Linked DNA regions of Homo sapiens: regions 1 and 3 are each linked to region 2. The links come from fine-mapping of genetic effects on gene expression. A gene starts in region 2. Each other region holds a variant in brackets. All regions are shown on one strand. Distances are from middle to middle. Region 1 overlaps VAT1L (vesicle amine transport 1 like). Region 2 holds the start of VAT1L (vesicle amine transport 1 like). Region 3 overlaps VAT1L (vesicle amine transport 1 like).

What was found. PIP is the estimated chance that this variant, and not a neighbour inherited with it, causes the effect.
Region 1: its variant is fine-mapped to the expression of VAT1L in tibial artery (GTEx, PIP above 0.99). The same link has a PIP of 0.9 or more in aorta and coronary artery.
Region 3: its variant is fine-mapped to the expression of VAT1L in cerebellum (GTEx, PIP above 0.99).

What each region holds. Positions count from the first base shown.
Region 1 is chr16:77,877,889-77,885,888 of GRCh38, reverse strand. VAT1L (vesicle amine transport 1 like) reads right to left here. Exons shown (of 9, transcript NM_020927.3): 6 at 6,665-6,720; 7 at 1,087-1,281. Among named protein-coding and RNA genes, the nearest start is that of VAT1L, 93 kb to the right of the region's middle. RefSeq lists an enhancer at 7,369-8,000. The variant C/T (reference allele first, on the strand shown) is at 4,337.
Region 2 is chr16:77,785,161-77,793,500 of GRCh38, reverse strand. VAT1L (vesicle amine transport 1 like) reads right to left here and starts at 4,937. Exons shown (of 9, transcript NM_020927.3): 1 at 4,586-4,937. The coding sequence starts at 4,818. All of the region lies in intron 1 of LOC107984878 (a long non-coding RNA gene), which reads left to right.
Region 3 is chr16:77,922,775-77,930,774 of GRCh38, reverse strand. The region is part of intron 7 of VAT1L (vesicle amine transport 1 like); the gene reads right to left. It overlaps LOC105371351 (a long non-coding RNA gene), which reads left to right. Exons shown (of 3, transcript XR_007065123.1): 3 at 1-1,041. Among named protein-coding and RNA genes, the nearest start is that of CLEC3A, 96 kb to the left of the region's middle. The variant G/A (reference allele first, on the strand shown) is at 4,980.

The DNA of each region.
Region 1 (8,000 bases), 93 kb before region 2:
GTTGTATTTGAATATACAGTGACCCCCAAAGAGCCTTTCTAGTGGTATTTCTGTGCTTAGAGAAGCCATTGGATTTGGGCCAATGTAATCGTTCAGGCAAACAGACACAGCCTTCTTGCCAGAAGCACACCCACTAGAACTTTCGTACTTGTTATTTTTTTAAAAAGTATTTGTGACTTGCAAAAGTACAACAAAGTACTTGTACCATAAGGCACTTCCCTCATGCAAAATGCAAAACAATGAAAAAAAAAACATTCCCACATATTTTAAAATATTTTTCAGGGGCGTCATGGCTCCCTGAAGCCAAGGCTAAGAAATCTTGACTTAGGTTTCTTAGCGAAATGCCTCTTAAAATCCAGGCCACATCTCTTCATTTCTTCTACAAGGAGCTGCCATTAACTGACTCCCCAAATGCCCAAACCTTCCCCTTACTTGAAGGATTTTCTAGACCCTGCCTTCTCCTAGCAAGGGCCATGTGAACCAATACAACCAGTTCATGCTTCAGTATCCTTCGAGGCTCCATTAGGGGTTCTTAATGTTCTTGTGATCAAGGAATGCTTCCAAATACTATAACTTTTGGAAGATCAACTAACAAAAAGACTCAATCCAACTTTAGACCCAACAATTCAGCAGTAATTCCAAAGTCCATCGTGATAGCTAATGTCTCATCGGGGCTCAAGGCATCCAGCGGAGCACACAAATCATTTTAGCTCAGATCACTGTCTGCTCTGACACTGATCTCTTATGTACTCACAAGGTGACAATATGTATGATGCCTCAACAATGTACACATGCTCTTGTAACCACACCGAATTGTAGACATTGATCAAAATTTGGTGGCCTTACCTGGGAAGGGTTCAGAGCACAAATGGTGTGATGAGGCACGTGGTTTGCAAATCACCAAAGAGCTTAAAGTATTTCTTATATCCAAAGTACTATTCTGTGGTACAGGTGACTTTTAGGACCCTCATTTAAAACAAACCCATCTGGGAAAAAAATCATTTAGTAGAAGATTGTATTTGGCTGCCCAAACCTTCCTGAGTTAAAAAGAGGAGTTTATTTGCAGAAGAAAAGCACCATTCTTACCTCCTCCAGAGCCCACAAGGAGTCCACCACAGGCTTGATCTTCTTCTGGTTGTAGAGCCCTATGAGTTTTTCCACCACTCCCCGAATGAGGCCCGCCCGGCCTTGTTTGAAGAGCAGATTTAAAAGGGAAAACCCCGCGATGACTTTGTTCTCCTCATACAGCTTGATGGGGTTCACCTTCTCCACCTGCCACCACTGCAAAGAGAGGTGGTATTGGGTTATAGGAACTCAATACCGGGGTTAAGCCTACATTGGCAGCATTGCTGATGTCATCAGCTACTACAGGGGGAACGTGGGGCTGCAGCTCAGCAGATTCCAGCTGGCCAAGGGGTTGCTCTTGGTGGTGTATTTTTTTATTTTATTTTTTATTTTTATTTTTTGAGATGGAGTCTCACTCTGTAGCCCAGGCTGGAGTGCAGTGGCATGATCTCAGCTTACTGCAACGTCTGCCTCCCGGGTTCAAGTAATTCTCTGCCCCAGCCTCCCGAGTAGCTGGGATTACAGGCGCCCACGACCATGCCCAGCTAATTTTTGTATTTTTAGTAGGGATGGGGTTTCACCATCTTGGCCAGGCTGGTCTTGAACTCCTGACCTCGTGATCCACCCGCCTTGGACAGTGGTGTATTTTTTTTAAAAGCATCTATTTTTCTAGGCACTGTTGCAAGTGCATGGGAAGCAATAGACATTGATGCTTATGAGACGCTCAGGTCTAAGTGGGAGAGAGAGCCCAAAACTAACTACATGGCCACATGTAGTTGAAATATTAAGTACATGGTCAGGATCATCAGCTCCGGACTTGAATCGTGGCTCTACAACGTTCTCTGTGATTAAGTATAAAGCACTTGGCTCAGTGAATGGTGGTGGTGATGATGGGGTTGTTAAAGGAACTAGGATGGCAGAAAAGTTTACACAATGTGGTGGGGAACATGATGGAGGTGGCCACTCTGACTGCAGAAGCAGCTTTCCTGGGGGAGTGGTTTTGATAAGGCTAAATCTGGGGAGGCGGGTAGGGATCCATCGGATGAAGAGGGAGGAGGGATGATTTAGGAAGAAGTAACAGCATGAAGAAATGATGAGGCCAAATTGTTGGGACTGAATCAATGGTTCTGAACTGGGGGTAGTTTTGTCCCCCAGAAGGCATTTGATATTGTTTGGGGATTTTTGTTTGTTTGTGATGACTGAAGCGGGAGGTGGTGCTACTGGCGTCTAGTGGGTGGAAGCCAGGGATGCAGCTAAACATCCCACAGTGCTCAGGACAAAGAATATTCACAGCAAAGAATAATCCACAACAAAGAATTACCCAGCCCCAAATATCCATAGCATTAAAGCCGAGATGCCCTGGACTAAAGTTCTGGGTGAAATACCTACAAACTATTTAATGTGGCCATCTCTTTTCCAGTCTGTCATCTCCTCCCTTCATATCAAAATAAGTAAATAATCCACTGGAAACCTAGAGAAATGGGGATCCAACTGCTTTGTTATGATTTAATTGCTTTTCCTTTGGTGCTGGTTATAGGTTAGAAATCCAAGCGTCCAGTTTCTGGGGGATTCTAGGGGATAAGATGTTCAAAATCATTTCAATACAGGATGCAAAGAGGAATGTGATGGGCATTTAGAAACATTGATAGCCTTTATGTTATCATTGAGCTCATTTATATCCTGTTTTCGAAAAGAATTAAGGAGACTGACTAAAGTGAAAATTTTTTATTTTTTTTAATTGGGAAGCTCGTGTCACTAGGAGAATAAGCATGGAAAAGGCAGGTTGAAAACAATGATGAGGTTCATATACAAAATTATTTACAAAAGCACATTCGGAGAGGGCCGGGGGACCAATAAGAGCCACGCATTTGACCTTAGGTTTCTTGGCTTTCAGTTTTGATGGTCTTACCTGGCAAGGGTTTGTGGCACAGATGGTGTGGTGAGGCATGTGGTTTGGAAATCACTAAATAACTTAACGTATTCCTTACATCCAAAATTCTATTCTATGGGACAGTGATTTTTAGGACCCTCATTTAAAACAAACCAACTTGGGAAATACAGCAAATATAGAAAAATAATAACTTGATTCACAGTGTATCTGCAATGCCTCAGTGAATGTTTGTGGAATGAATGCTTGCTGCAAATGTACAGTTGTGGTTAAGAAGGTTATAGAGCTGAATGCCTAGTTTTGAATCTCAGCTTTGTCACTTACTAGCTGTGTGACTTTAGGCAAATCTCTTAACTTCTCTGTGCTCAATTTCCTCACTGTTCCTCATGGGGTGGTTATGAGGAGTAAATGTGTTAATGCATATCAAGTGCTTAGCACAGTGTCTGCCACGCATGAGGTGCTCTATAAACATACACCACTTTTATTATCTTAATTTGAACAAGATGTTTTTGGTTTAGTGAATAAGAGCTCCAAATTTGGAGTCAGATTGCTCTGTAAATGTTAACTTCTTCTATTAGTATCATCATCGTTATGGTGTGAAAGAAAATAGCATGTTTGACAAATAGTGAGGCACAAACTGCAGCGATTTTAAGATGCAACATCATTAAGATAGCTGAGTGGGAAATTCCTGTATAATTCCAGTCGACCTTTAATTTCTAAGCCCTTCTTGAATACATTGAAAAATTTTTTTTCTAGGACTTTTCAGAGCAAAGTTCCACCTCTTCGTAGGCCCTCTCTTCAGTTTTCTTCCAAATGACCCTCAGTGTTTGAGCAGGCCTCTGAAAGAAAACATCCTCATTCTTGACCTCCAGGTACAAAGCGTTCTGGAAATAGGAACCCCTGCTTTGGGCAGAGGAATCTCCATCCCCATCCTGGCTGTGCATTTATGAATGCCTTCATTGAGCATGGGCACGCTGCAATTATTTCATTAACACTGTGTGTTGGGATTGTGCATTTAGAGGAGAAAGGGAAAACACTTCTTACAATTGTATGTAATTTGGGACCAGTGTGGTTACCCACAGCAGTCTGTCAACATCATGTTAATTACAGCCACAGCAACAGAGCAGCTGTGCATGGCACAAAGCCTGTCTTCAGGGGACACACTCCAGACAGCATCCTTCATTACACTCCATTCTTGCTCCTCCTGTCGGTTCTGTAGTTAGGATGATCCTTGACCCATATTTTAAAGCCCAAATGCAAAGAGAAGACCTTTGATTTGAATCTCACAAATGCAGGGAGTATTATCCATTCCAGAATGTTTGGGGCTGATGTTTCTGGAAGCTGATGTTGGCACTTTGAGGGCATATGAATAGCACATAGTGC[C/T]ATACTTAGAATGAATTCCAAACTCCTTACCATACTTTTCACTGACCACTTTGTTTTAATTGCCTCCACCCACCCTGCTATTTTCTATTTTAGCACTTGATTTTTATCCTCTTCAGAGGTTTAATAGCCATTTATAATCATGTTAATTAACATATCTTGCTTATTTTGGGTTTGTCTCCCTCATTAGTATATAAGAACCAAAAAGGCCCAAAGTGCACCTATCTTATGTGCTGTAATAGCCCAGTGCTTGGCACAATACCACAAACAGCAGGTGCTCAGAAAATGCCTGTCAAATGAGTGGATCAATTGACGCTGCACTGGCACATAGAAGTCCAAAAGTAGAGGGGGCAAAAATAAACCCTTGTGAAAAGCAGCAATCCCCTGTTGGGGAGGGGTAAAAATAAAAGTTCCTACCATTTGACCCAGCAGTCTCATTACTGGGTATATATCCAAAAGAAAGTAAATCGTTCTATCAAAAGGACACATGCACCCGTATGTTCATTGCCATTCTATTCACAATAGCAAACACATGGAATCAACCTAGGTGCCCATCAATGGTGGACTGGATAAATAAAATGTGAGACGTATACACCATGGAATACTATGCAGTCATAAAAAAGAATGGAATCATGTCCTTTGCAGCAACGTGGATGCAGCTGGAGCTCATTTTCCTAATCAAATTAATGCAGAAACATAAAAACAAATACTGCATGTTCTCTCCTAAGTGGGAGCTGGGTACTCATGGACATAAATATGGGAACAGTTAACACTGCAGACCACTAAAGGGGACTGGGAGGGGGGCAGGGGTTGAAAAACTATTGGGTACTATGCTCACTATGTGAATGAGAGGATCATTTGTACCCCAAACTTCAGCATCATACAATACCCGGGCAAAAAACCTGCACAGGTACCTCCTGAATCTAAAAAGTTGAAATTACTAAAAAAAAAAAAAAAAAAAAAATACCCTGGAACGTGCGAAGAAAAAAAAAAAGCAACATGGGCTGGTGCTGGTGTACTGGTGGTTCATTTCAAAGAAGAGAAGGAATTTGGGCTGGGGAAGGGGTGTTGAAATGATATTTAAAAAACTAAGTTTGGCCGAGTACGATGGCTCACACCTATAATTCCAGCACTTTGGGAGGCTGAGGCAAGCGGATTGCTTGAGCCCGGGAATTCAAAACCAGCCTGGGTAACAGGGTGAAACCTTGTCTCTACCAAAATAAATACATAAATTCGCTGGGTATAGTGGCACACACCTGTAATCCCAGCTACTTGGGAGGCTGAAGCAGGAGGGTTGCTACAGCCCAGGAGGTGGAGGTTGCAGTGAGCCGAGACCATGCCACGGCACTCCAACCTGGGTGACAGAGCTAGACTCGGTCTCAAAAAAGTTCAAGCCAACATCAGTATAATTCTAGCAAGTATAGCTCCAGATAGGAAGATAGATCAGAGTCAATTTGTAGTGAGGTGAATGCCCAGGGATGTCGCTTTGCAATGGCCGACAAACTAACCACCATATTGAAAGCATGATCACCCAAGAGAGTGGTTCATGAGCTTGTCTGAGTCTACAAGTCACCTCAGGATCTTGTTAAGGTCATAGGGTCCTCATTTCTATCTCCGATTCAAGAGGATGGGGAGACAGAGAAATCTCAAGTACCCCCAGAGACCTGGTCAGAAAGTAGCAAAGTGAAAGGCTGGCCGCTCTATGGAGCAAAGAAAATGCACTAATGCTAAGTTCATTTTTGACCAATAATTAAAGACACCAACACTTAAGCAATTTTGACTGAAATAAAGCTGTAGCTTTCTTGAGTTTCTCTGACACTCCCACCTCTCTGTTTCATTTAGACAAAAGTAGTCTAAATTCTGGTCCTGACCATTTGCAGGGAATAGGGCAGGAGTGCAGGTTTTATGGGAAATGAACGAGGAAATTGAAAGACAAGATTAAGTCAATGCCTTATGATAGAAGAGCTCACAGCTGGGTGCGGTGGCTCACGCCTGTAATCCCAGCACTTTGGGAGGCTGAGGCGGGCAGATCACGAGGTCAGATTGAGACCATCCTGGCCAACACGGTGAAACCCCGTCTCTACTACAAATACAAAAATTAGCTGGGTATGGTGGCGCATGCCTGTAATCCCAGCTACTAGGGAGGCTGAGGCAGGAGAATCGCTTGAACCAGGGAGTCGGAGGTTGCCATGAGCCGAGATCGTGCCATTGCACTCCAGCCTGGTGACAGAACGAGACGCTGTCTCAAAACAAACAAACAAACAAAAACAAAGCTCTCAACATGTGAATCAACATGCCACCACAGTACATCAGATGTGCCTGGATACTTACTGATTTTGCAAAGCTGAAGAAGCTCTTGGTCTCTCCAGTTACCATGTTGGATGAGCCTGAAAATGAAAGATTCCCACATTAAGCAATTGCTAATGAAAATGGACATCTCTTGTTATGCATGAAAAAAATGGCAATTGTTTGGTCCGGAACTGGAGAAATCTTGAAAACAAATTTAATTAAGCCTTGGCAAAGTGAGGGGAATGAGAATGAGGCATAAAGTTGACTATGTTAGCTGACTGTCCCTGATCAAAGAGAAAGTGACATTTCTCATGATGACCGTCTTATTACTTTGCAAAATTTGGCATATAGCAAAAATATGATGTAGGCCAACGTTTGAATAAAATGATGAGTTGCTGAAATGTCTTTTTAGGTCTGTTCTTTGAGGCTGAGAAAGGAACTCCTTAGTGAATCTACTTTGTGATTCTGAATTTGATTCCCCAGCAAGTGAGGGGCTTGGGGCTCTGACCTGGACTGGGTACCTAAATGGTGGGAGAGGTGGAGCAGAGTTAAAATATAGATGGATTGGAAAAAATGGGTATAGAAGCTCACAGGTGAGAATGAAAAGGGGCCCAGGGACCAAAGAAATGGTGTGATCCATGTGTCAGCTCCAAAGAGGTCTGAGACAAGCATATGAGAAACTGAGTTTTGCCAATTGGACAAGCAGTATTCAGAGGGCAGATGGGAGGTGGAGTTGGGAAAGATTCCCTAAGATTCTCATACGGAGAGTAAAGACCCTTTATAAGGTTTCGGGGCAGGGGAGGGGGGAATGAGAGAGCTCTTAACAGTATGGGGAACATTCAAATACCATACAGGTGCTTTTTCAACAACTTTCCTGCCTTGTCTTCAAAGATTTTGGAGTAATTTCTTCTCAGAGAGGAGTTATTTAATAAAATAGTCATGTGTATTTTACACTATTTAGCCTGGGTAAACTAGTAGCCAGTTAATAAGTTGGTGCAAAAGTAACTGTGGTTTTTGCCATTACTTTTAATGCCGAAGACTGCAATTACCCTTACACCAGCATAATAGTGAACCATTGCTTCTGTTTTTATGGGGTGAGTACCACGGGGCATCCCAGTACTAGACTTTGATTAATTAGTGACCAAGTGATCAACGTAATGAAGTAGATAATTGTGAACTACTCACATGGGATTAATCAAGTTGAATTTCACCAAAATGACATCAAGAAACTGGGACAAAAATAGAATTATTGGTAAATGATAAGTAAGGATGACTACATCGTCCATCTGCATTTGACTCACATGTTAGTCATATCCGATATCCTTGCAACGTGCAGGGACTCTCACTGATAATAATAAACCACACGTCCACTTCAAAG
Region 2 (8,340 bases):
ACAAGACTGATAGCAGCAAAGGCACAGTTCTGACTTGTATCAGTTAGGGGCGAACCATACACCTTGGTTTGCCTAAGACAGTTCCAGTTTATGATTGTAGCTTCTCCTATGTAGGAGTAATTATAAATAGTGCCCCTTCTGCTTTCAGAAGAGGTTCAGTTTGTTTGAAACCAGCCTGAGCAACATAGACTCTGTCTCGACAAAAAATAAATTAAAAAAAAATTAGCTGGGCACGGTGGCACATGCCTGTGGTCCCAGCTATGCAGGAAGTCAAGGCAGGAGGATCACTTGAGCCAGGGAGATCAAGGTGGCAGTGAACCATGATCACACCACTGCACTTCACCTTGCGTGACAGAGCAAGACCCTGTCTCAAAATATAAGAGTTCCAGTTTGAATAATAAACTATATAAGTATCTATGGCAACCAAAAGTAAAAGTTTACATAATAATGGTTACCATTTTTTGACTACTTGCTATGCCTGTCTCAAAATACAAGAGTTCCAGTTTGAATAATAAACTAAAGTTTATACGGCAACCAAAAGTAAAAGTTTAGATAATAATGGTTATCATTTTTTGACTGCTTGCTAAGCACCAGGCATCCTTATAAAGGTCTTTGTATATGGCATGTCATTTAAGCTTCATTACAATACTATGAAGGGGGATGCTATTATAAAATGGATGCTCTATTTTATAGTCCGGGAAACAGAAGTTTGTTAACATGTTTTTAACAACAACATGGCCAAGGCCAACCAGAAGGCGTGGTTTGTACCTCACCCAGATCCTGTCTATGGGCAGGTGCCCATCCCCAAACTGCTGGAAGTGTTGGATGCTCAAGCCTCAGAGTCATCCCTTTCCCTAGAGAATTTTGCTCAGTCAGATAGAAGCCACTTCTGCTTGAGAGGCTCAATGTCCCCACTTAGAAAGTAGCTCACAGCCAATGACACACAAGGCTCCCTCTGTTCCTTGCTTCAAGGTGAGACTGACTCTGCAGTGGGATCCAGCTAAGACCACATCTTTGCTTAACTCCTTCCTCTTCCCTAGCCTGCTTCCCTTGCTCCCATAGTTCTAAAAGCACACTTTCAATAAACCACCTGAAAAAGGATCCCTGCGTCAGGTTCTGCCTCCAAGGAGCCAGACCTAAGACATCCAGTTAGCAAGTATCAGAGCTGGGACTCATGTCTAGGAAGCTCTCTTAATCACTAAGCAGATGTGACATGATATTGCCTATATTATATACATGATTAAAATGATGGCCTCCAAGTTGTAGGTCACCAAGCAGCATATATCACATTGGTTTAGATATGGCAACAACGACAGTCACAATGAATCCTACTTATTGAATGCTGACAACGCGGCAGTGTCTTTCTTGCATCTGATCCTTTCAACAATACCATGAAGTTCATTTTATTATCCCCACTTTGCAGATAATGTATGGGAAGTTTGGAGACACTGAGACACATCCCCCAGGGGCATATGGATAGGAAGAGATGAGGCTTAAGCTTATATTCAAGTCCCTCTCTCTTCAAGGGCCACATGCTTTTTCCACCTGGTCACTTAAACCTCTTGTTGCGTAAAGTATTCCATGAATAATTGGTGAAATCCATCTGCCATCAAAACTGACATTTTAAAAAACAATTTAGACAGAAGACTCTGCTATCATTCCAACCCTGACCCCAGCAACAGTTCTTTTTGAGCTGCATTTGACCAAAATGTCTCTACTTTCTGGAGAAAGCCATACTACTTTGGAAATAGCTAGAGAATATTCTCTTAAGCCAGACACAAAAAGAGCAAAGGAACCATCTTCGGTGGAGAAAGGAAAGAAAGTGAGACTGCATGCTAAGAGGGGAATCACATGTGCTAAGGCTTTTCCACCAAGGGAGACAAAAATGGAATAAAAGGAAAATAGCAAAAATATAAGGAGAATTAGATTCAAATCCTAAGTCTACTATTTTTTGATGTTTTTGGCAAATTACTCAATGTTTCCAAGCCTCAATTTGCTCTTCTGTTCTGTAGGAAAAATACCCATCTCACTGGCGCATTAATGAAAAAGGGTCCATGATATAAAATGGATATTTCTTCCTGCCTCATCTCTTCCATTTTCATAAAATTCATAGCCAACTTGGAACGTCATTCCAGGTCTGTCTAATACTGGTTCAAATGGACTATGCTTTATTCCAAGCAAAAAGCATATCCTATTATGACAAAAAGGTTTCTATTAAAAATAGAGAGCAGATAAAAGGGAGACCATCATCCAGGAAGCCATCGGCTGATTCATAAAAATACAGAATGAGTCATCCTGTATCCCAAGGCTAAAACTTATAATCAATGATCATGTCTGGCCAGCCAATCCCAGCCCAGAGGAGAAGGAGCTGCCCAGTGGGCCATTTACAAGCCTATTACAATCCTTCCTTGTAAAACCATTAACTCTGCTTCCAGCTTGGTGAAAGGAAAATCAATCTGGGCTGTTTGCAACACTGTATTCCAAATGTACCTGCAGCCTGGTTGGCTTTCTGAACAACTAGGGTCGGGGAAGTGCAGTGATTTCTGTGTGTGTGTGTGTAGCGCCACTGAAGAACAGGCTTTCACATCTGGCTTTGAAAATCAATCTCTTGGCCTTCATCTTGACATTTATTATTTCAAAATGCTTCAGTTCCTATCAGCAATTATGCAGTTAACATAAGACTGGAAAACACAGAACTATGTGTACTGCAGATGATGCTCTTTCCTTTAAAAAGTAGTTTTATCATTTTCCCTCTCTGAATATGTACTCTAGAATCCTAGAATCCCATCCTCAATTTGGATGAAGGGTCATAAATTACATACGCATACATATGCAACTGTATATATAATTGTATATATGTATATGCACATATATGCATAGGTGTGTGTATACAGGTAATTTTTTTTGATGAAGTGGTTAAGGAAGGAGAGTTCTAAATGCATGGTTTTAATTGTACTAAGCAAAAGCTCTTCCACCAGCAAGTAAAGAAAAATAATGACCCAACAATCCTCCTCCGAGCTCTTTCCTCAATCCATTCATTCAGCGATAACTTATTTAGGATGTGCAGTGGGCCAAACAGTGTGGGGTGGGGGAGTGGGCTGGTCTTTGGGGATTTAGCTGCGAAAGGGCAGATATAAGCTCTCCTTCTGGGATCAAACAACTTGGTTCAATAAGAGTTTATTGTACAGGATCCCCCGGTTTGCAAAAGCCTCTTCCCTTACCCGGAATTCCCCACAGAGACTCACGAGTCGTGTTCAGAGTCAAACCTGACCAGCTGCATATATGAGCAGCAAGGCAGGGATCAGCGGCTGCTTCTCCCACTAGCTGCTTTCTAATCTGGCCGATGAAACCTGCGTCTGTTCTCAAGGTGGTGAACGGGAGGGGACCCTCGTTTGTATTTCTCGTGCCTCTAGAGAGGTCCAGATATTGGGTTTCTGATCTAACCTAGAAGCTCGTGAGCTGGCTGCTGCTTTGGAGAGCAGTATGTACTGGGGGGCTCTAGAAAACAGATGGGAAGGAATAGGCTCGTCTCACCGTGATTAATAGCAAGTTCCCCTTACAAGTTTAACATGCAAACCTAGTGTTGGGTCCAGTCCGCCTCTGCTGGGTAAGCTCTTCCCAGAACTTCAGGGAAATTACAGTGCCCGCACACAGAGAGGCTTAAACTCTCCCCGGGAATTTCAGCTGAGCGTGAGGGCCTGGAGAAGTTCCCCCAGGGGGAATGGGGAATAGAGGGCAGCTTAGAGAGCTGAGCTCCTTCTGAGATGGGACCAGGAATTCCGGGGAGACTGATCAGGGTTTTTTCCCCTCTCGGAGAAACAGAGGATGGAGAGGGGCATGGAGGGGGTTGCGCTGCAGCCCTGGTCTCCACCCTCACCAAGCCTGGGTGCAAGGTACCGACCCTCTTCCTTCCTAGTTCCTTTCCCCGTCAGGCTACGGGGAAGGAAGTGGGCAGGAGGCGGGATCCAGCCCTGCACCCTGTCCCAGGCCCTTCAGGACAACAGCATAGAGGTGAAAAAAGATCATGTATCAAATTCCCGGCCAAGCCACTTAGTGGCAGCTGACTGATCTTGGGCAAATCACTCATTCTCGCTGAGCGGCGGCTTTCTTACCTGTAAACGGATCATGATGGCACCTGACTCATTAGGTCCCAGGAAGTATTAAATAAGATCGCACGTGTAAAACTACCAACGGCGGCTGGCACACAGTGGGCTTGCGGTTCTTAATACATATATTTTTAATTCTGTTAAGCATCAACCCTCCCGTGCGAAAGCTGAGTTGTCCTCTCAGACGGAGAACTCCCGTAGCGCAATCTTCCAGACCCGGGGTGCCTGGGCGCCAGCATTCTCCCCGCGCCCAGGAGCTCACATTCTCCTCCCGTCACCCCTAGATCTGGCTTGGGGAGGCCGCCCCTCTGCATCCTCCCCAGCTTTGGCCCGGGGAGGCTCTGAGACCCGGGTGAGGGCGCGGAGGGGGTGCGCGCGGCGGTTCTACCCGGGCAGCATCCCAGCCGCAGCTTTCCCACCCCCTCCCCAGCGCCCAGCGCGCAAAAAGAGAGAAAGCGAGAAAGGCGCGGATACTGGACCAGGCTTTGACGCGGATCTTGAGCTCGCCGTCCTGAGGCTCGGGCATGGCCTTCCTGAAGAGCCGCAGCTTGTTGAGCCCCCCGAAGCCAGCCAGCACCACCGCGCGCATCTCCTGGGCGTCCCCGAGGCGGTGCGAGCCGTCGCCGCCGCCGCCCTCCGCCGGCTCCTTGCCTGCCTCCTTCTCGATCATTTGCTCCGTCTCCTCCGCCTTCTCCACGCCTTCCTTGGCCATGGCGCTCGAGGGCGCGGGGCGCACGGGCTGCGGTGGCTGCGGTGGCTGCGGCGCTGGGGGAGTGGGGCTCCTCTCCCGCGGGTTCCTCCTGTTGAATGTGGGATGCTCGGCTGTGCAATGGCTGCAGCCTCTGCGAGCGCCGCCGCGGTCCACAGCCTCCGCCGTAATCCTCACAAGAGCCGTGCCCTAAGCGCTTCACCCCCGCCCCACCCTTCTTTCCTGTCCCAACGAAGCCTCAACTCCAGTTCCTGAAATAGTCCCAAGTTAGGGTCGGGATCGCGGCCCTAAACCCAAATTTGCCGAAGATCTGTGACTAAAACGAGCCTAGAGAGACCACCCTGTCATCCCCCTTCCTGTGGGCCCAGTACTTGGTTATATACGGCACAGGCTCGGGTGCCTTGAAATGGACCGAGACTAATGTCTGGGCCTGGAGGATGCCTTACCGCGACAAGGTTGCCCTCTCTCCCTCCCATCTTCGAGGCTGGGCGGGATAGTCGGGAAATTGGGTCGTTTCTCAAACAGCCAGTTTTGGGTGGAAGGGCGGAGAGGTTTGGGAAGCAGGGAACTAGAGATCCCGCTCACTGCCCTGAAGAGTCCAGTGCAGGGTCTTTTCACTCCAGACCTGCAGGGTCAGCCGGGATGCTCTTTGCTGGGTATCACCAGGGGCTTCCTTACGACGGCGAATTCTCACCACCCACACCATTTCGGGCTATTAAAGAGGCTTCAGACAAGAATCCTGTACCAGAAAGGATCCTGTTCGTGTTCTGATCCCCGGAAGACCAGTGTGTACCCGCTCCCCAACATGCATGCACATACACAGAGTAGTAACTGGCGTTTTGTTTTGTTATCAGGCTCTTTGAGAAAAACAGCTCATAGAAAAACTTGGAATTTCTGAAATAAAATAATGGGGAAGGACGTGGTTTTCCTAGGGGCAGTTTAAGGAAAGAGATGCAGGTGAGGAAGTAGGTCTATATTCTATTATAGTTGCTATGCCATTGCCAGCCTTGAGATCTTGGGCAACTCATTCAACCTTCCTGAGCCTCAACACACTCATCTATAAATTGGGTACATTGATTTTTTTTTCTATATTGTGTGAAGTGCTGGGGTGGACATGATTTCAGTGAGACATGGTCCTTATATTGGAAAAGGTCAATTTCAGAGCATGAGGCATGAAGGACACAGTCAACAAATGTGGTACAATGAATGATGTAAGTGCTGCCTCTTCTCTCCCCTCATTCTTCCTGTGCCTCACTGCTTTAAATGCCCTTGTCTTCTATTCCTTAAAAAAAAAAAAAAAAAAAAAAAAGACGATTGCCATTTTCCCTCCTTCCACAGGGTTCTGCACCTGCTGTCCCCTTGGCCTGGGGTATGTGTTCCATCTCCTTTATCTGGTGTTAACTCCTACTTCGTTCTCACCTCAAGGGTCCATTCCTGTTGGGAGGCACTCCAACCTCCAGATTGGTGTCCTCCCTGACTATAGACACTTATGTCCCTTTGTAGCCAACTTTTATATGTTTACCTGATAATATCTGTTTCCTTTATCCAACTGTGAACTTCATGTGAGCAGGAGCTATTTCTACTTTTATCCAGCGTGGTTTTCCCAGGGCTTAATACATGATTGGTACATAGTAGAATATGCACAGAGGCAGCCTGTTGAAAAACTGGTCCAGAGAGTTGGAGAAGTTCTCATGGAGGAGGGAACATTTGGGCTAGACCTTGAAGGATAAGGCAGGTTCTTCTGGCAGAAAAGGTCGCAAGCTCATTCAAATAACACAGAAAGGTAACAGGTAAAAGGGCTTTTGAGATTCTGGTTTGTTCTATGTAGGCAGAACATTGGCTGTATTTAGCAATCATTGGAGATGAGGCTGAAAGGTTTATTGGGACCAGCTTTTGAAAGTTCTCACATACCAGGTTATAAAATTTAAGACATAATCACAGAGGCAATTGGTGCCATAAAGGCTTAAAAAACAAAAACATGGGGAGAGCATTACCAGAACTGCATTTTAGGATAATAACTTTGACAGTAAGTGGGTGATGGATTAGATGATAGAGTTACTGGAAGCATCGAGATCAGTTAGAGACTAAGTGCAGGCAAAAAAAAAAAAAAATCCCCAAAAAGAAACAAAATAAATGAGAATGGTCCCAACTGAGGCAATGGCCATGGGATGGAAGGAAGAGGGCTAAAAGAAGCCTGAATAGGGCTTGGTTAGTGAATTGAACATTTTATTGTGAATCCAATTGTCCAAATTGTTTGTCTTGTTTACATTGTGAGATACAGTGTTTAGGCTGGATTCTGTCCTGAAACAAGAATTTGAACACCCGTCGTTTATTTTGGAAGTAATCCCAGGAAGCTCTGGCTGGGAAGTAGGAAAGTGAGACAGAAAATTGATACTACCCAATATGAGATGTATTAATAAGCAGATTACCGCAGTGGACAATTGGAGCTCAAACCCGCAGGGGACATTTGAGAGACAGTGTAGAACAAGTCTCAGAGTTGTCTCACCCAAGGAGTGAGGACATAGGTATTTATTCACTAAAGTCTATGCTTGATTGGTCAAGAACTGTTCCTGGAATTGTTAACTCCTTGACATTTCCATCCTGTCCCATGTACTTGGGCTGAGAGAATCCCCAGGCAGAGAATTGTGGATGCTCTTTGCAGGAAGCTATCATTTTATACATGGAATGATGAATTCCATGGAGACATAGCTTTGGCACCAATAATATCTGCAATATATGTTATTGTTTTGGAGGTGTCTACTGTTCTAGACACTGTAGGTATATTTCTTAATTTGATTCTGAAAATAATCTCATGAGTAAGAATTCCTATTCCCACTTTATGGAAGAGGAAAATGAAAATGAATCTTAACATGATGAATTATTGTGCTCAAAGGAACATGCTAGTTATAATGAGATAGAAGACCAACTCCAAATCTGTGCTCTTAAGATCTCATCATGCATGTTTATACGGACAGGCCAAACCAGTTCTGCCCCTGATTGACAATACTCCATGGCATTTTTTAATGTTCCCTGCTCTTTTTTTTCACCGCCTACTATCTCTGTACCACCAAGGTCCCTTGCCTTGGTTCTGAGTGTTTGTTTTCCTTTGGCATTAGTAAAGTAAACCCACTTTGTAGTCAGCACACAGCATGTTAAAGAGAAAGTGTTTGTCTTACAGTGTGTTAAAGGGAATATAATTACTCCCTCCAAGGGAATCTTCTGGCTGTTTACAAACCCCAGATTATAATTGGTAGGCAGCTGATTATCACAACAACCCAGAGAGAACCCACCACAGTCTGTGCTGCTTGTGGGGGGGTGGGGAGATACCCTCTTCTGAGTCCTATATACCACTATTGTTAAATATTCCCAACTCTGGTACTCCCTGGTGGAACGTGGAAAGAGCCACAGTGCATGGCATATCTCCAAATAAACACAATAAATCAATTTTTAATTTGTAAAATTGATTCCTTGGACATTCACTCAGAGCCTCCGTTGTGGAATTTCTTACATTATTGTAGAATAATG
Region 3 (8,000 bases), 140 kb before region 2:
CATGCCCCCTTGAACAACTCTGCATGTTGGAGCAGGCCAAGAGGAGATGTCCATTTCCTGGGAAGAAGACTGAAGGTTTTCTTAACAGTGGGGGCTTTCAACACCCTGAGATTAGGATTATCCAACCACCAAATGATGATCCATACCTTGCAGAGGGTTTTATTGAGTGCTACGGAACCTACCTTGAGATATAAGCGGGGCACGGGCCCTGGAACCTGTCAAGAACGTTGAGTCCGGATTGAGAGTCTCTTTGAGTTTGATTCAGCGAGGGGTTATCTACCTCACACCTCCTTCCGTACCAGTCTTACCTGCCACTGCAGAGAGCCATTCAAAGGACAGGGCCAGACTAAATTCCTGTGGGCCCTTCTCCCCGAGGTAAGAGATAGGATCAATGGATGGGGTAGGTGGAATTGGCCATTGTTTGGAAACAGCTAAGCCATGTCCCCCCAAAGAACATCAGTAATGATACTCATGGGAGAGACCTAGTGGCTTTCACTGAGGCCATGCATGACCAGGAAAGACAGACAATACAGGCTAGGGGTCGAATTCAGTGGTTCATCTCAACAACAATAAGGAATATGTGTTGGGGGTGGGTGCTTGTGGTTCATTCCAAGGAAGACATGGAATATGGGCTGGAAAGAGGGGTGTGGGTGGTTTGTTTCAAGAAGGATACGAAGTTTGGGCTGGAAGGTAGGTCCTTCTAAAAGGGATAAGGAGTATGGGCTATGGGTATTGGTTGGAGGTTCATTTGGAAATAAGACATCTTTTCTGGAAAGGCACGCAGGAAGAAAAATATATCATGTTGAAGAGGACAGTGACTTGGAGAACTCGCTGTGTTGCCCAGGCTAGTCTCAAACTCCTCCACTCAAGTAATCCTGCTGAGGCCTCCCAAAGTGCTGGGATTACACACCCAGCCAGAGGGCAGTTTTTGAGTTACTGTGCTAACTTCCGATACCAGTTCTTCCACTTATTATCTGGGTCTCCTCGGACAGTTTGCTTAACCTGTAAATGTTTCATCAAATATAAAATGGGGATAATTCCAACACCTACCTCATGTCACCTTGTGAGTATTTAAGCATGTAGTGAGGGGGAGAGTGGCCTTTGTTTCTTTCTGTGAGGGCTCTCTATCTCACCAAAGCATTCCCATCTGACTCCCTATCTGTCACCCTCTCCGTCCTGAAAATGTTAGTGTCTTGAGATATGTTGACTATTTGGAAAAATGGGGCTCTTTTCTTCCACTTGAAATTACATTTATATTTTAAATGTTCTCTGGAATACATCCATGATTTGCTGGAGCTGAGAATTGCTAATAAGGCTTTATTTATGAAGTATTAAACACTGAAGGAAATTCAGCTTGTCTTGAAACTCCCTAGGGCCTAATACAAATACATGTACCTAAAAACACATGCACAGAGGGCTCATATAACTCCTCTTTCTACCAGTGTTGAGAAAATGTTGCCAATCTTTCACTAATGATCCCTGCCTGGAAGAGAGTATCCCGCTGTTCAGGCAGTACTAAGTCTAGAGACTCATTATTGAAGGAGAGGGGGAATTTCTGGAGACAAAGAAAAATGTCGCGTTCCATCAATCCAGAGAATGCAGAGCTCAAATAGAGAGCATTCAAAGTACATCAGTATCACACAGCATAAAAATAATAGAGCGGCTAGGCACGGTGGCTCACACCTGTAATCCTAGCACTTTGGGAGGCCAAGGGGGCGGATCACGAGGTCAAGAGATCGAGACCATCCTGGCCAACATGGTGAAACCCCATCTCTACTAAAAATACAAAAACTTTTACCGGGGCATGGTGGTGCGCACCTGTAGTCCCAGCTGCTCGGGAGGCTGAGGCAGGATCGCTTGAACCCGGAAAGGGGAGGTTGCAGTGAGCTGAGATTGCACCACTGCACTCCAGCCTGGTGACAGAGTGAGACTCCATCTCAAAAACAAACAAACAAACGAAAATAGAGCATACTGGCACAGTGACTTAGAAGACTTCAACAGTCATTTAAAAAAAAAATTCTTACTCTCCTGACACCCCCATCAATTTAAGACATTTTGTGTAATTGTTTTTGTTACTGATTTTGGTGAGTAATATGAAACACGTCATTTACGAGGGGCTTGCTTTCAAATCTTATTTCCTTGATTACAGAAATTTCTTTAAATATCACTATGGTCAAGGGGAGGGCTACAAATGCCTTATTTAAGAGGAAATGTTGGTTGTCACATCACATCCAAGATAGCGGTTTCTGAGATGACAGTTATGGAAGATTCAGCTATGACTTTTGTCTCTCACAGGATAGTGTTATGAAAAATCTCAATACTTGATCTTTTAAAAGATGAGTGACCATCTCCCTCCATCCCTGAATTCTCCCCCAACCATGATGGAATAATCATAAGAGAGAAATAATAGCAGTCACAATAGCAGGATTAGCAAACAGCTGAGTTTTTACAAGTGTGTTAAGCAATTATGTAATTTTTCTCATTTAGCATTCTCCACACACACATTTGCTAGAGGGAAGCCTGGTGACCAGAGAGATGTTGGCTTCCCTGGGACTTCTCAGGTCACAAATGAACCAGAGCCAGGTCTTGCTCTGGTTCATCTTTACAAAAGGAGGCCAGCTCTGGGGTCTTTGATTGAACTAAACAATATTAAAATGACTTTGTCAATAAGGCCTGCTGTGAAAATGGCCCACTTGAGCCCAGTAGACACTGAAGATACTGCATTGTTTTATTATTCTGATATTGTATGGAAGAGGCATCCCATCCTAATGGGAAGGATTGAATTAGAGGTCAAATGACTTTTGATTTCCATGCAGAAAGAGAGTCAGAACTGTAGATCAGGGATACTAGTGGTAAGAATTTTCAAAGGAAATTGAAAAGTTTATTTATTTATTTATATTTATTTATTTTGAGACGGAGTCTCTGTCACCCAGACTGGAGTACAGTGGCGTGATCTCGGCTCACTGTAACCTCCACCTCCCGGGTTCAAGCGATTCTCCTGCCTCATCCTCCCGAGTAGCTGGGACTACAGGCGTGTGCCACCACACCCGGCTAATTTTTTAGTAGAGACGGGGTTTCACTGTGTTAGCCAGGATGGTCTCGAACTCCTGACCTCATGATCCGCCCACCTCAGCCTCCCAAAGTGCTGGGATTACAGGCAAAAGCTACCGCGCCTGGCCAAAGTTTTTCAATTTTTTTGAGGTGCAAATCAGGACAGGCGGCCTGATGCAAATGAATGGGTGTACCTAGGGTGGCCATAGGATGACAGCAAAAGCTAGTGGCTAAAGAGTGCAGATTCTGGAGATGGATCAATTGGTTTTGATCCTGTTTGTACTTCTTACTAGTTGCTGAGCCTCAGTTTCTTCATCTGTAAAGTAGGGACAACAGTAGTACTCACTATATGCAAAGCCCTCCCAACAGTGTTTTTTTTTTTTTTTGAGATGGAGTCTCGCTCTGTCACCCAGGCTGGAGTGTAGTGGCGCGATCTCGGCTCACTGCAAGCTCTGCCTCCCAGGTTCACGCCATTCTCCTGCCTCAGCCTCCTGACTAGCTGGGACTACAGGTGCCCGCCACCACACCTGGCTAATTTTTTGTATTTTTAGTAGAGATGAGATTTCACCATGTTAGCCAGGATGGTCTCAATCTCCTGACCTGGTGATCCTCCTGCCTCGGCGTCCCAAAATGCTGGGATTACAGGCGTGAGCCACCGCGCCGGGCCATAACAGTGTTGATGTGTACTAATTCCTCAGGAAATAGCCTATGACTGTTATGTTGTCTTCTACATTCCTAACCAGAGAGGTAGCATATGTAAATGTGTAATGGTCCTTGACAATCTGGAGGAAGTGATTGGTGGATTTCTAACTTCAGGGGTAGCCACGATAGAGTGGCCCAAGAAGCCAGAGTCTCTTTCTAGGTCACATGTGGAAGGAGGGAGGGTGTCCCCACCAAGGGAGACTGCAAGCGGAATGGGACATGTCTGTGTCTCAGTGCTGGAAACAAAGGCTCAGCCAGAGTTCTAGAGGGGGCAGTGATTTGCTCAGAAGAGTCATTAGTGGGGCATAGAGGTTGGTGAGGACTGTGAAGTCAACCTTAGTTTTTATCCTGAAATACTCTTTAGAAAACCTGGCCACACTTCCATGTCCTTAATCAACCACCGTATCTTTTAGCTCTTACCCCTACTTCTACTTTTTTTGAGATGGAGTCTTGCTCTGTCACCCAGGCTGGAGTGCATGGTGCAGTCTCAGCTCATGGCAACCTCTGCCTCCCAGGTTCAAGCGATTCTCCTGTCTCAGCCTCTTGAGTAGCTGGGATTACAGGCGCCTGCCACCACACCCTACTAACTTTTGTATTTTTAGTAAAGATGGGGTTTCACCATGTTGGCCAGGCTGGTTTCGAAACACCTGTCCTTAGGCGATCTGCCTGCCTCAGCCTCCCAAAGTGCTGGGATTACAGGTGTGCACCACCGTGCCTGGCCCAACTCCTATTTTATTACTCCTATTTTTTTTTTTTTTTTTTTTACTTTGAGACGGAGTCTCACTCTGTTGCCCAGACTGGAGTGCAGTGGTGCGATCTCGGCTCACTGCAAGCTCCGCCTCCCGGGTTCACGCCACTCTCCTGCCTCAGCCTCCTGAGTAGCTGGGACTACAGGCGCCCGCCACCATGCCTGGCTAATTTTTAGTAGAGACGGGGTTTCACAGTGTTAGCCAGGATGGTCTCGATCTCCTGACCTCGTGACCCACCCGCCTCGGCCTCCCAAAGTGCTAGGATTACAGGTATGAGCCACCGCACCCGGCCCCGACTCCTATTTTTTAATGACAGATTATCAGCAGTAAAGGATCAAATGCATACATGCCATTGATCACTCAAGGACCCAATAAAGCATCTAGGCAGCTTCATGGTCAAGGACTTTCAAAGCCAGAAGCAGGGGGAGGTGGGGGGAATTAAAGGAAGATGCTGCTTCTGGCTTTTTATGTTGTTTG[G/A]TAGATTTCTCAAAAGGCACTTTTCTGTAACCCAGCAACAACTCTGCAGGATCACCATCTATTTTATTCTTTCAATTTCCTGTAGTCTCTCTAGATTTTACGTCATCTGCAGAACGAGGGAAAAGCAAAATTGATTTTAGGAAGGGAAACTGTAAAAACAGTTCTGGGCTAGCTAGTCTCATCTCCTGCTGAGTTCATTTTATTAAAGGAAGCAGTGAAAACGCTAGAACGTGGAAAGCTGAAATAATCTTTTGTTCTTATATTGACTCTGGGCAGAGAAAAGCAATATTGATTGAAGCGCCATTGCATATATGGACCTCTTTAATACCCCGAAACAACCCTTTCCACTAAGGGGTATTATTAGCTTGATTTTGTAAATGGTAGGCTGAAACTCAAGCCACTTGATCGAGGTGAAATTAGTGACTATTTGGTAAAGCTGGGATCAAATTCACATTTGTCAGATTCAGATAACCAGAAGGGGTAGATGGTTTGGCCAATTCTGCAACCAGGGCCAGGACTAGGCAAGAGAAAGACCAGGGGGTGTAAAATTTAAGGAGGCCCTCACTCTCCAGGCTGCACGTGAACCTGAGAGTGAGTGCCTCCTTAAATTGTGTACACTAGGTACCTTGCTTGCCTGACCCTAGTGTGCCCTGGCAGTAACCATTGCTTGGTGGTAGGGAAGGCAAAAGCTACTAATTTTGAGGACTACCTATAAGCTGAACATTCCATGAGGAGCTTTACATAACGGACCACCCATGTTCTCAAAAGCCTTGTGGGTGAGTATTCTTACCTTTAATGCATACACTATTAGACAGAGATAGTTTTACATATCTTAATTCTTATGGAAAGGGCCATGTATTTGGAAAGAAATCCTTTAGTAAAATGAAAAGGTACAGAGACTGAGCTGGCTATCTCTCTACCCAGGGCTTAGGTAATTTATTTGCTGATATTCTTGAGACATTACCCTGCTAGACAGAGGGGGAAAAATTGAAGGTCTTGGAGTCTGGGTTGAGGGGATATGAAAATAAGGGTAAATGGGCCAGGCGTGGTGGCTCACGCCTGTAATCCCAGCACTTTGGGAGGCCAAGGCAGGCAGATCACTTGCCAGGAGTTCAAGACCAGCCTGGCCAACATGGTGAAACCCCGTCTCTACTAAAAATACAAAAAATTAGGTGGGTGTGGTGGCATACGTATGTAATCCCAACTACTTGGGAGGCTGAGGCAGGAGAATCGCTTGAATCTGGAAGGCGGAGGTTGCAGTGAGCCGAGATTGTGTCACTGCACTCCAGCCTGGATGACAGAGCAAGACTCTGTCTCAGGAAAAAAAAACAGTGGGGAGGAAGGAAAATAAGAAGTGGGTGGAAGCTTGGAGAAGGCTGGGAGTTTGTGCATTTTGATGTGCTCATTCCCGGCTCTCATACACTAAAGCTTAAAATGCCTGATATGTGTGCCAGGGAGGGGCATCTTATGGGACCCAGTGAAGAGGCTGAGCTTGATGCTGGGGTGGTCCTGCATGAAAAAGAGATCCTGCCTGCAGTCATGAGGAAAACCTCCAGATCATAAGCCCTAGAAAATAGCAAATATTGAAGGAAGAGTTTCAGACTTTCAAAGACCACAACATTGACTCGGGGGTGTCTGAGTCAATATAGCTTCTCCGGGAGAAAGGGGGATGCCAGCTGACATCTGTATTATGTACACATGGAGACAAGGAGGTTCAGAGATGTTGAATCAGTTGCTCAGTGTCTCACAGCTGGTAAGAACCAGTGGGGATGCAACTTCTTGTGTGTCTAGTTTCAGAGCTGCATAAATAGATTTCCTCATCTTTACTGGGGGAAGGGAGGGGGGGAAGGCAGACCCCAGACCATGAGGGAGAAATCCAAGCTTGTGGAGAGACAGTCAGCTTGACAAATGGGTCCTGTACACACCAGTGTGTCGGCTGCTAAGCTCATATGAGCTATCCTGGGATGGTTTTCACAGCAGCTTTTGTTTTGTTTTGTTTTGTTTTCCTCTCTCCCCAGTGTAGTGAAGGCACTTTGTTTTCAAAAACTGTGTGAAGCCACCCTGGGTACCAACTTTGAGAAAGAAGCAGGCTTGGGAGAAGCCTTTGTCCATCTCCCTCACTTTACAGATTGGGAAACTGAGGCCCGGAGGAGAAAGCTGTGTGACTAGGCAGGAGGCTGGCTTCTGAAAAATACCAAAGAAATTCTACAGAAGTCCAACAGAGAGTAGAAAAAACCTGATAGGTGAGGATGCTGGCTTAATTTTGTTAACATCAATCTTTCCAGGGACCAAGATTTTAAGACCTGATTCTGGGCCCCTGAGTTTATTCCATTCATTCATTCATCCATGACAGAGTCTTGCTCTGTCTCCCAGGCTAGGATGCAATGGCATGATCTTGGCTCACTGCAACCTCTGCCTCCAGGGTTCAAGCTATTCTCCTGCCTCAGCCTCCTGAGTAGCTGGGACTACAGGTGCGCGGCACCATGCCCAGCTAATTTTTTGTATTTTTGGTAGATACGGGGTTTCACCATGTTAACCAGGATGGTCTCGATTTCCTGACCTCATGATCCACCCACCTTGGCCTCTCAATATGCTGCAATTACAGGCGTGAGCCACTGCGCCCAGCCAAAGTTATTCCTTTTAACGGATGTTCAGAATTGTCCTCCAGAAGCCGAGGTTCGGGGGGTCACACAGGTTGCAGGGTCTCCTGCTGAAGGAGGAATTGAGAGCTGGGAGAACTCTCCAAAGCCCACCACTGTGGCAAGGAACTGCTGACTTTTAACAGGCTGCAAGGTACAGTGGTGGCTCTGAAGATTTAGTGCTTGTAGACGTCAACGAAGATTGAACAAACAGGTCTGGGTTGAGGTCCCGGAATCTGCATTATAAAGCTCCCCAGGAATTCCAACTCAGGTGGTTCACAGTGCACACTTTGAGGGCCACTGGCACAGTGAGAGTGGCATGGGTTGGAAAGTCAGGCAAACTTAGGTTTAAATCCTGGCTCCATGGGGAGGGGGTTTCAGC